Linked DNA regions of Homo sapiens: region 2 is linked to region 1. A link means that fine-mapping ties the variant in region 1 to the expression of a gene that starts in the linked region. Tissue or cell type: caudate. Region 1 holds a variant in brackets; the other region holds the start of a gene. All regions are shown on one strand. Distances are between the middles of the regions.

Region 1 (5,145 bases):
GGTTTTTTTCCCTTATGAGAAACCGAAGACTCCAAGTTAACTATCTTAGAAAATAAGGAGCTTCTTATCTCACCCAAGAAGTCAGGAGGGCGTGGAGACTAGGACTGACTAACACACCTACCTCTCTTCCTGGTTACCAGGAGGTTGCCAGCACTCCAGGCAGATGCTTTGATGTCAAATTTTTTTCAGTGGGCCCTTTTTTCCCAATATGACTCTAAAAACAAGAGAAAGTCCCTCCCTGTGTCCCACAGCCTGGAATTATGCCCCACACCTAAAGCAATCACGGGCAAGGAAATTGGTTCCCGCCAGCAGCCAGGACCAACCTCAATCACCACCTGGTGTGGCCACTGGGCTCCCTCCTATGAAGCACATGGCCACCCAAGAAGGGCGGATGTCTGAACAAAATGGAAAATAGAGGGTTTTGTTAGAAAGGAGAAGTGGGCAGCCGGGCATGGTGGCTCACGCCTGTAATCCCAGCACTTTGGGAGGCCGAGGCAGGCGAATCACCTGAGGTCAGGAGTTTAAGACCAGCCTGGTCAACATGGTGAAACCTTGTCTCTACTAAAAATACAAAAATTAACTGGGCATGGTGGCGCACACCAGTAGTTCCAGCTGCTCAGGAGGCTGAGACAGGAGAATCACTTGGATCCAGGAGGCAGAGGTTGCAGTAAGCCGAGATAGTGCCACTGTACTCCAGCCTGGGCAACAGAGGGAGACTCTATCTCAAAAAAAAAAAAAAAAAAATGGAAAGGAGAAGTGGTTAGAGGTGAATGGATTTGGGAAGGCAACCAATCCATCTGCTTCAGCTACCTATATAAGGGACCCCTCTTGGCTGGTGGGGCCTTAATCTTTTGGACATTAATGTAATTTTTCAGATTTTGCCAACTCTAGTAATAATAGCTAGCACTGAGCACGTACTAGGAGCTGTTCTAAGTGCTTTATCGCATTAAGGCATTTAATTCCCAGGTGAACCCCATGAGGCAGGTGCCGTTGTTATCCCATATTGATATGGAAGGAAGCTGAGAGAAAAGAGGTTAAGCAGGCATATGTTGATGCTTACTTTGCATTCAGCAAATGTGACAACTTGTTACACCTGTAGTTAGACCCAGTCCATCACAGAGAGAAGTCTTTCTGTTCATCATCACCGCACAAGTCGGTGGAGCTTTGTGTTCCAACCACAGAGTTGCCTTTCTGTCCATGGAGCATCTACTTCAAGTGGGCATTTGGGAGTTTTCTTCCCTTTTCTCTCTGGTGTCCTGCCTTTCACACTTCCTCCACCGCGTCAGTCTTTCATGCACCCTGTCTGCCTGTGGGGTCCCAGCTCCATCCTGGAGTGGTGGCAGCGCCCGAGACCTCAGACAGCTTCCTCACATTCTTCAGGCGAGGACTGCCAGGAGAGAAAGAACTTGAACAAAGATGCAGTGTGTTGCCAGGCTAACGAAGTGTAAGTTTTTTTATTCCATCTATCATTTGTCAACTCCCGACAAGAGGTGAAGATAGGAGTGGCTAAGACAGGAAGAAAATCCCATCTTACCACCTAAGGTGAGGTGAGGGCTCATTGTAAGCCCTGTTGAGGGAAGTACTGAGAAACAGAAAGCTATTCTGACCTGTATAGGAATACAGTGTATGTTCAGAAGGTCGTGACTCTCCCCCTCACAAAAAAAATACGTTCTTCACTGAAGACTAGAATTAAAGAATGTATATTCAGTTAAAGAAGTACATAAAGAAAAACAAAGCATTCTAAGCCCCAGGCTGTTTGCTCTTGTACCGTGTCACTACCCAAGTCAGGGAGCTCTCAGAAGAAAAAAATGCTTGAAGGTTCAGGCACCATGATGCCAGAACATCTGGTCTACCCAGTCGGCTGTGACAAGCGTGTCTGTTGGACACTGAGTGATCTGACACAGGTTTTTATGGGATTACCCTGGTGCCTTGGAGGTGTGTGGAGATAGTCATTTCAGAAGTAATTAGTAAATAATTATAATTGCTGAGCTGCTGGCTTGCTCTGTAATATCCTCATGAAGAAGAGACAAAAGTGGTGGGTAGATTCATTCTCTTAAAGAGGTGAATTTTCTTTAAAAAGACATTTAAAAATTTAATATTCAAGGGATAAAGAATCAGTTGTTAGAATCACCACCATTTCATAAACACACCTTAATTTTATAACACTACATTAGCATGAATGAATAGACAGGAATGCAGTCTGTTTGCCTAACAAAAAGGCTGTGTCAAGCTCAAAATGAGGCCATTTACTAAAACAAGCAAGCTCTTGGTTAATTCCTAATATTCCCCTAATCCTACTTTCATCAGCTCTACTTTGCTGCACTTGGTATTAATTGCCTATTGTAGCAGGTATTTGAACACATCTCCTCTTTCATCTGAAGAAAATATTAGCATATCGTAGAGCTGTTGGGACAGATTGTATCTGAGACACTGTTTCCTCCCCGCAGAAAAGCCTATCAAT[C/G]ATAACTGAATATAGTGATTAATAATGTCACAGCTTTTATTCTTGTGTCTCCGTGCATCTAAATGAAGAGTAGCACTTATATTTTGATCTAGAGAATCTCACACCACAAAATAATCCGTTGGCATTTTATTAAAAAATTATATTGAGAATACTTCTACCCCAGGACCTATTTTTGGTTGCTGTATCATTAATTTACTAAAGCTTTCATGAAGGAACTACAGCAAAGATTCTGCAATATCAGAATTTGCAATTATTTCGGACTAAGGTTTTTTTTTTAATCTTCCTGTGTGTGACAAATTAATAGTGCAAACGCAAGATTGTAGGGGTAAATGTTTAAAGCAGCATGGTGTGGGGGTACAGTCTGGAGCTCTGGCCTTAGCAAGTCCAAGCATGCATTTGAACACCAACACGGACTCTCTGAGTGATCCTGAGCAAGCTAGTCTTGCCTCTTTCGAGACTTTCCCCATCTGTGAACTGGGTGAACAATATTGCAAGGTTTTCTCAGTGTTATTGGGATTCTGTGTGAGAATAAATATAAAATGAACTCACCGTAGTGCTGGGCACATAGAAGTTACTCAACAAAATTAGGAGTTTGTATTTAGAGGACACAAAGCATGCGAGTTCTTACGTGGGAAGTTAAAGGATGGCATGCGATCATCTAGGGCAGCAGTCCCCATCCCCCAGGCTGCAGACCTGTACTGGTTGGTGGCCTGTCGGGAACCAGAATGCACAGCAGGAGGTGAGCGGTGGGCAAATGAGCATCACCGCCTGAGCTCCGCCTCCTGTCAGATCAGCAGCGGCATTAGCTTCTCATAGGAGCACGAACCCTATTGTGAACTGCGCATGCGAGGATCTACGTTGCACGCTCCTTATGAGAACCATCTAACTAGTGTCTGATGGTCTGAGGTGGAACAGTTTCATCCCGAAACCATACCCCCTCCCCACTGGCCCATGGAAAAATTGTCTTCCACAAAACTGGTCCCCGGTACCCAGAAGGTTAGGGACTGCTGCTCTAGGATTGAAAGCTACTAGGGGAAGAATAAGAGGGCTATATGCTGAGGGTGCCCACGTTTATATCTCCTTCTGAGGCCCCAGACTCACCAGTGTCCACAGACAAAAACGTAACTCGTGACTGTCCTCCTGCCCCACCCCAAGAATCCTTCCTCCCAGGTCAGTAAATGGTTCTACCACTCATCATTCATTCAAGCAGAAACCAAGGACCAGTCTTGATTACCTCTCCCTTACCAGTGCCCCTCCCATATGCAGGCCGTCAGCAAGTTATGTCTACTGTATCCTGAACTAGATCCCAAACCCGGACACTTCTGATCCATCCCTACTGCCATCATTATACCTAAGCCACCATTGTTGCTGGCCTGTGCTTTGTCAGTGACTCCTTAGCTGGGTTTCCCGTTGCCTCTCTTGCCCCTTATAATCTGCATTCCACACAACAGCCAGAGTTATCCGTTCAAAACATAAGCCAGAGCCCGTCAGACTTCTCTGGTGAACATACCCATGTCTTTTGCTTGTGCATCGAGTACACTTCAGTTAAATGTCCCAGCTTTCAGAGCTCTGCCCGAGAGAGCTCTCTAGTGAGATGTCTTTTGACTACCCTAAAACTGTACATTTTCCGTAACACGTAGAACATTCTGAAATGTTGTTTGTTTGCTTGTTTGTGACTGGGATCTGTGTTCTGTGGGAGCAGGCACCTTTTCTGTCCTGTCCACTGTGGTAACTTCAGTGCCTTGAACAGTTCCTAGAGCCGGATATACACTCAGTAAATAATTATTGTATGAATAAAGAAAGTTTTGTAGAAAAGTTCATATTCCTTGGAATAGCCAGGAACAATTGGATGAGGAAGGTGATATTGGAGCTTGAGTTTGGACCATAGATAGACTTGCAATGCACGTTGAGGATGGGATAGGGGAAGAGATGTGGGGTAGTTTTCAGAATTGCAACCTGGCCTAAGAAAAGGACATGAGGAGAGGGAAGCCGGGCTGTGGCCAGAGCACCGCAAGGAGACAAGCCCTGCGGCTATTCTGTAGAGTTATGTTTCTCAAGGCAAGTTGGGACAGATCAGTTTTGAAAGGTAGACTGGCGGAAAAGATGCATTTGAAGGCCAGGTTTTAACCCTTCGGCATGGGTCAGGAGGAGGATGACTGAAGGTTTCTGATAAGGGGGTTATGATGTATTTAGGAGAGTGCTGTCAGCAGCATCATGGGTGCATTTGCTGGGAAAGCAACTGGAGTCAGGCGTACCTGTTACCAGGCTTGGAAGTCATCGGTCACCCTCTTACCATCATCGTCTGCATTTGTTGAGCACCTACTGGTGTTGTGGGGACACCATGTGGTTATTGGGGATACAAAGAAGACTAAGGCCTGATTCTTGTCCTCCAGAAACTTAAAATCACCTTGGGGACACAAGCGTAAGCAACACATTATGATGGTTTAAAAATGTGTTTATTGGGCGGTATATCACCTAGATCAGGAGGAGTTAGGGAATAAAGTGATACAAGTTGCTCATACTGACAGCTGAGAGATGTGGACAGTAAACTCTCTAAGACTTTGTAAGAGAAAGTCACCCCTATTGGCTACTGGGGAGGTACCCAGGGAGGGTGATTGGTTTGAACCAGGCCTTAGAGGAAGGGTAAGACTTCAGATGGTGTGTACATAGCAGGGGCTCATTAA
Region 2 (5,145 bases), 340 kb after region 1:
ATTCTAAGCGTACCACGGGGTGGTTACATCAGAGGTACCTCCTCGGCCATGTAGGTGACTCTCTGAACCCATCCACATCACCAGTACAGGGACCTCATTCAATCCAGGTCTTCCGAAATTCCTGGGGCCGAGAAATAAATAGGAAGGCAGTCCCACACTGAAACACTTCCGAACACACGATTAAGCCTCCGTGACTGGATTATCGCCTTTTGACTAGCCATCGCCCAATTAATGTACCTCCAGTGAGCAAGCACTAGAATCGATGGAACCATTCCACCGAAATCCATCTCCAGAAAAAGATTTTACAAGTGTTGTGGGGCTGCCACTCAGAAAGCCAATTTGCAAGGAGCCCAGCACGGTGAAGCGCAGTTTATCATGCGTGGTTCCCACACAGAGGGCCCCTGCAGACTGCGCCTGGCTCCAGAATGCCTCCCTAGCACCACAAGCTCAAACGCATTGAGGTTCTCCCCTGCCTCAGCCCGGCCGAATCCATCAGCACCCTCCCCAAATAGTCTCTTAGAGCCCTGGCTCCTGTACACCAAGATCTGGCTTCCGACTGGACGTGGCAGTCAGCTGGTGGCCTCTCCAACATCGCCCTGTGCCAGGTTTCTCACCAAGTTGGTTTAATTTTTTTTTTTTTTTTGCAAAGTCCAGTCAGATTATTGACAGTGCCTGTCTGCCTGACCCGCCCCCGCCCCCCGGCGCCGCAGATCCCTGCTAACAAGTCTCCCAGTGCCATTCAACTCCCGTGAGCCAGCTCCGCCATTCAACAGCCAGCCCACTTTTGTTCCCCCAGTTTAATTTCATAATTGTTTGCCACTTAACAAGCTCTCCTCTGGGCCATTCAATAGAGCAGGGGAAATGGGGAGGGGGAAGGCAAAGAAACTCTGGGAGGGGAGCTGGGAGCCAGGCCAGCCCAGCACTGGGGAAGAGACATCCCAGAGAGGTCAGCTGGACAGGGGTGGGGGCCAGTTCCGGAGTGGAGCCTCCTGACACCAACTGGGCCACCCAGCTTGAGCCCGGAGAGGTGGGAGGGAAAGGAGCAGGGTGAGTTCCGAAGGCCAGGCCGGGGCCTGCCAGACTCCTGGGCACATCAGTGCTCTGAATGACACGCCTCTGGCCCTGCCAGGGTGAAGGGAGACAGCATGAATTCACGCTCCCGTAACATGTCCCAGAACAAACACACAGGAGACAGAACTGCTCCTTAGTTTGGGCATTCCATGATCAACATTCCCTTTGAGGGCTGGGACCTGTCTAGGTAGCCACTGAATCCCCTGGCCGAGCACATAGCAGACAGGAATAAATATGTGTTGAGTGAGTGGATGGATGGATGGATGGATGGATGGATGGATGGGAGGGAGGGATGAATGGATGGAAGGAAATGGATGAAGTTTCCAGCAATACCTAGCAAAAGTGGCCACTCGGCCAGCGTTCGTTCCCTATCTCTTCCCCCCCAAGTGCCAGCAGGGGCTTGGCAGCGCACACAGTAGGCTCTCTACAAGCGGGGGCTGCTATTGTTACCACTATCATCATCACTGGCACTCCACCAGCCCGCTGCTTCCACCAGCTACTCCGCCAGCAGCAGCAGCGACTGGCGAGCAAGGGAAAAGTTTCGCTGACCCCGCGGCCCCAGCCGGAGTCCCGCGCCCTGGCGGAGCCCCCTCCCGCCGCCGCCCGCTAGGCAGGCGGGGCAGCTGGGGTGCCCAGCCCGCTTCCCGCACCCGGCAAAGGCGGCCAAAGTAACTTTGCGGGCGCCCCTGCGCAGCGCCGCGGGCGTCGCCCAGCGCCTGGAGAGGGTCCCGGCCGCGCCCCGCGCCCGGCCTCCCGCCCGCGCCCGCCGCGCCCCGCCCGCCTCCGGTCCTACCTGGCCCCGGGCTCCTCTTCGGCGGCCGCGGCGGCTGCGAGCAGCAGCGCGCACCGAGGGAGGCAGGGGCTCCCGGGAGGGAGGCGCGCAGGGGCGGGGGCTCCTCCGGCGGCGGCCGCCTCGCCGCGCGTCCGAGGCTGCAAGTGGGAGCCAGACTCCTCCTTCGTGGGGCGGGGGGCTCCCCGCGCCCCCTCCGCCGCCCGCCCGCGCGCCGCGAGGCTCCGAGCCTCCTTGGCTCCCCCCGCCCGCCGCCGCCCGCCTCCCCACGCCCGCCCTCCCCGCCTCTCCGCGCCCGGCCGCCGGGAGGGGCGCGCTCGCGGCCTCGGTCCCGGCCCTTGCGCCGCCACCCGCCGGGGCCCCCGCCAGGCCCGCCAGGCCTCGGCCCTCGGCCCCCGCCCGGGCTCGGAGTCCGCATCCCGCTGCGGAGGGACAGGGAGCGCGGCCGCGGGCCTGGACGCGGGAGGAGGAGCGGGGCCCGCGCTGCGGAAAAGGGAGGGGGCCGCCCCACTGCGCCCGGCGCCCCTCTTGGCGCCCGCCCCCAGCCCCGGACCGGGCCGCGCGCGGGCTGGGCAGGGAGCGGGGCGGGGGCGCTCTCACCTCCGGATCCGTGGCCTCCGCAGCGGGCACCGCGTGCAGGGGCGTGCGCGGCTCCTTCCGGGGCGCCGCAGCCTTCGCCCGAGGCCCGGACCCCCTCCTGGGGCCGCCGGGGCACCCTGCTGTGGGCCCCTCCCGCCCGGGGTCTGGAAGGTCCCCCTCCGGAGACGGAGACACTCTGACCCCAGCTCCCAGTCTGAATAGGTCGGGGTCCTCCTCCTGGGCCACCATCTCTTCCACTCGGGAGTCACAGGTCCCCAATCCCGGGCACAGCAGGTAGCCTGCAGCGGCCGGAGCCCCAACGGGATGGGTAAACAAGTCAGGAACTCAGACGGCGCGACACCCAGTGTAAAGAGGCCCTGCCTTGCTGGGAAGAGCAGAGACCATCGCCTTCAGTGTCGGGGGTCACCCTGGGGAGTTTAAGGCCCTGTGGCTTCCAGCCCCTTGCCGCGGGTGGGACGGGGATTCCAGGGCCTTGTATAGTTAGGGTGCAGATCACTCTGGCCTGGGCCTCCCAGACTGAGAGGAAGATGAAAAGGGGCTGTGGCTCCTCAGAGGCCCAAAGCCCCTCAACAAATGCTTGTAGGGTCTCCCTTCACCAACACACACATCACACAATCCCCAAGGACACCCTCTGCGGGCCCCTCAGGCCTATTCTGCCCCTGAGGACTGCTATCTGGTGTGGCTTCCTGGAGGTGGGGACAGCCCAGTTGAATGAGTGTATGCCAGGAGAGAAGGCCTGGAAAAGACATCCAGGCCGAGGGAATGCGGCATGCAAAGGCCTTGGCATGTGAGTTCATTGGGGCTAGAGACAAAGGAAAAGCAAGGGAGGGAAGATGAGGTGGCAAGGCTGGGAGTGAGGGAACAGAAGCCAGATCGGGAAGAGCCTTGGATAGACTTTATCAGGGGCAGTGGGAGCCATAGAGGGTTTTTAAGCAGGGCTGTGACTTGGTCACGTTTATCTTTTTACAGCTTGTTCTGGCACCTCTAAAGACAGAGGTAGAGGGGGAGAGGCTGGGCTATGGAGGGAGAGGATGGAGGCCTGGGGCCCTCAGGCCAGAGATGGGGGGCAAGGGCTGGCCGAGGAGTCCTGAGGCAGTCACCCCCTCCTGCTTCCTTGTCTTTAGACCCCAATTCTCTCTCAGGGAATCCCAAACTCAACCCGGGAGCCTCTTTCTCCTCCTAGGCTACAGGCTTCCTGAGCACCGTGACTTCGAGGGAGGTGAAGGAGAAAACTGTCATGCCTGCCTGGGAAGGCGGCTTGGACTCAGTGTCTCAGCAGACCCCACCTGCCGCCTGCCTGGGACAAAGCCACAGCTTGGCTGTGGCCTCTGGAGATCACAAAGGACAGTGACAAATGTGCCTTCCTGGTCCCTGGGTCGAGAGCAGAGGTTCCTGTGACACTTGTCCTCCAAGGCCAGCTTCCCCACCACCTCCAGTCCTACCAGAACTACCCTCAAGTCCCAGAGCATCATCTCTTACCTTCCCAGGGTACACATTTATTGAGCATCTACCATATTCCTGGCACTCGGCACTTGCTTTGAAGCCAAGCATGAGCTCTCCACCAGAGGGACCTGGTGCTACCTGCACCACCCAGTCCCAGGCGCAGAGCTCTCAGCTTGACCCACACTGTCTTATGTAGCCCTCATGCCTCCCCTGGGCCAGGCTGCATCCCAGAGGTCAGCCTCCCCAGCGCCTAGTGCTGCATCCCACAGGGCCTGGCACTCTGTAGGTGCCCAGGGAATGGTCCCTAAAAGATGAGGGAATGAGGAGTGTGGGATGGGCAGGATAGACCCACTCCTAAAAGAGCAACCATTCTGGCAAACACAGCACACATTCTGCTTTTGGAAAAATTTAATAACACAGTGGCACTTGTTCATGGAGACTAATAGAAACACCACACAATCCCACACTGCTAAACCAGCCAGGAGATGGCTCGTTCTGCTGGAAAACATTTCCTAGGCGCCTACTACGTGCTGGAGGCCAAGGCAGAGAAGGAAGAGAAGGAAGGCACTCTGTCATGGGAGAAGCAGAAGGTCAGCAGATACTCATGACACCAGGGAGAAGAGGGCAGCCCAGGGCAAGGAGAGCAGCACATGCAGCCAGGACACTTCAGAGGAGGCAGTGTGTGTGCTGCAGAAGAATCTAGGGATAAATGGGAGAGGGGCAGCCAGGCAAAGGGACCAGCCTGTGCAAAGGCTCAGAGGCTCCAAAGTGCATGTGCGATATCCCCTGGCCAAGAAACTCACCTTCCAGAAAGGCGTCCTGAGGCAGTAACTGCAGGCTGTTTATAGCAGCCCAGAAGTGAAAGCAACCTAAATGCCCAGCCAGAGGGGATCCGTTTTTTAAATCCTGCTATGTCTGGGGAGTTTCAAATAGCCAAGTCCTGTTGCTGAAATGCCACATGGGAAAATGGGCTCCATGCTCACCACCCATCCCGCGAACGAGCGAAGCAGGTTACACCAGAGTGTGCCCGAATCTGTGTTTTGAAAAATGAAAAAATAGAGGGAAAGAGGAGAAAGAAGTCAGGAAGTAAATACAGCAAAATTTCAACCCTGATGATAAGATTTTGGGTGGGGGTTGGGGGAGTCTACTTTATTTATGGGAATTTTTTGTCTCCTACTTTCCCGCGATCATCAGGATGTCACGAAGGATGGTGAGTGTGGGGCATTCAAGGAGGGGTGTGG

Direction of the effects. Positions count from the first base shown, and alleles are read on the strand shown. Sizes are in standard deviations (SD) of each study's normalised expression.
With allele G in place of C in region 1, the expression in caudate of the gene that starts at base 2,009 in region 2 is higher (large effect, 0.81 SD a copy in GTEx).

Evidence for each region. PIP is the estimated chance that this variant, and not a neighbour inherited with it, causes the effect.
Region 2: MPPED1 starts here. The variant in region 1 is fine-mapped to the expression of MPPED1 in caudate (GTEx, PIP above 0.99).

Annotation. Positions count from the first base shown.
Region 1 is chr22:43,747,716-43,752,860 of GRCh38, reverse strand. The region is part of intron 6 of EFCAB6 (EF-hand calcium binding domain 6); the gene reads left to right. Among named protein-coding and RNA genes, the nearest start is that of EFCAB6, 62 kb to the left of the region's middle. The variant C/G (reference allele first, on the strand shown) is at 2,462.
Region 2 is chr22:43,408,878-43,414,022 of GRCh38, reverse strand. MPPED1 (metallophosphoesterase domain containing 1) reads right to left here and starts at 2,009. Exons shown (of 7, transcript NM_001044370.2): 1 at 1,865-2,009. It overlaps LINC01639 (long intergenic non-protein coding RNA 1639), which reads right to left. Exons shown (of 4, transcript NR_146918.1): 4 at 4,342-4,937.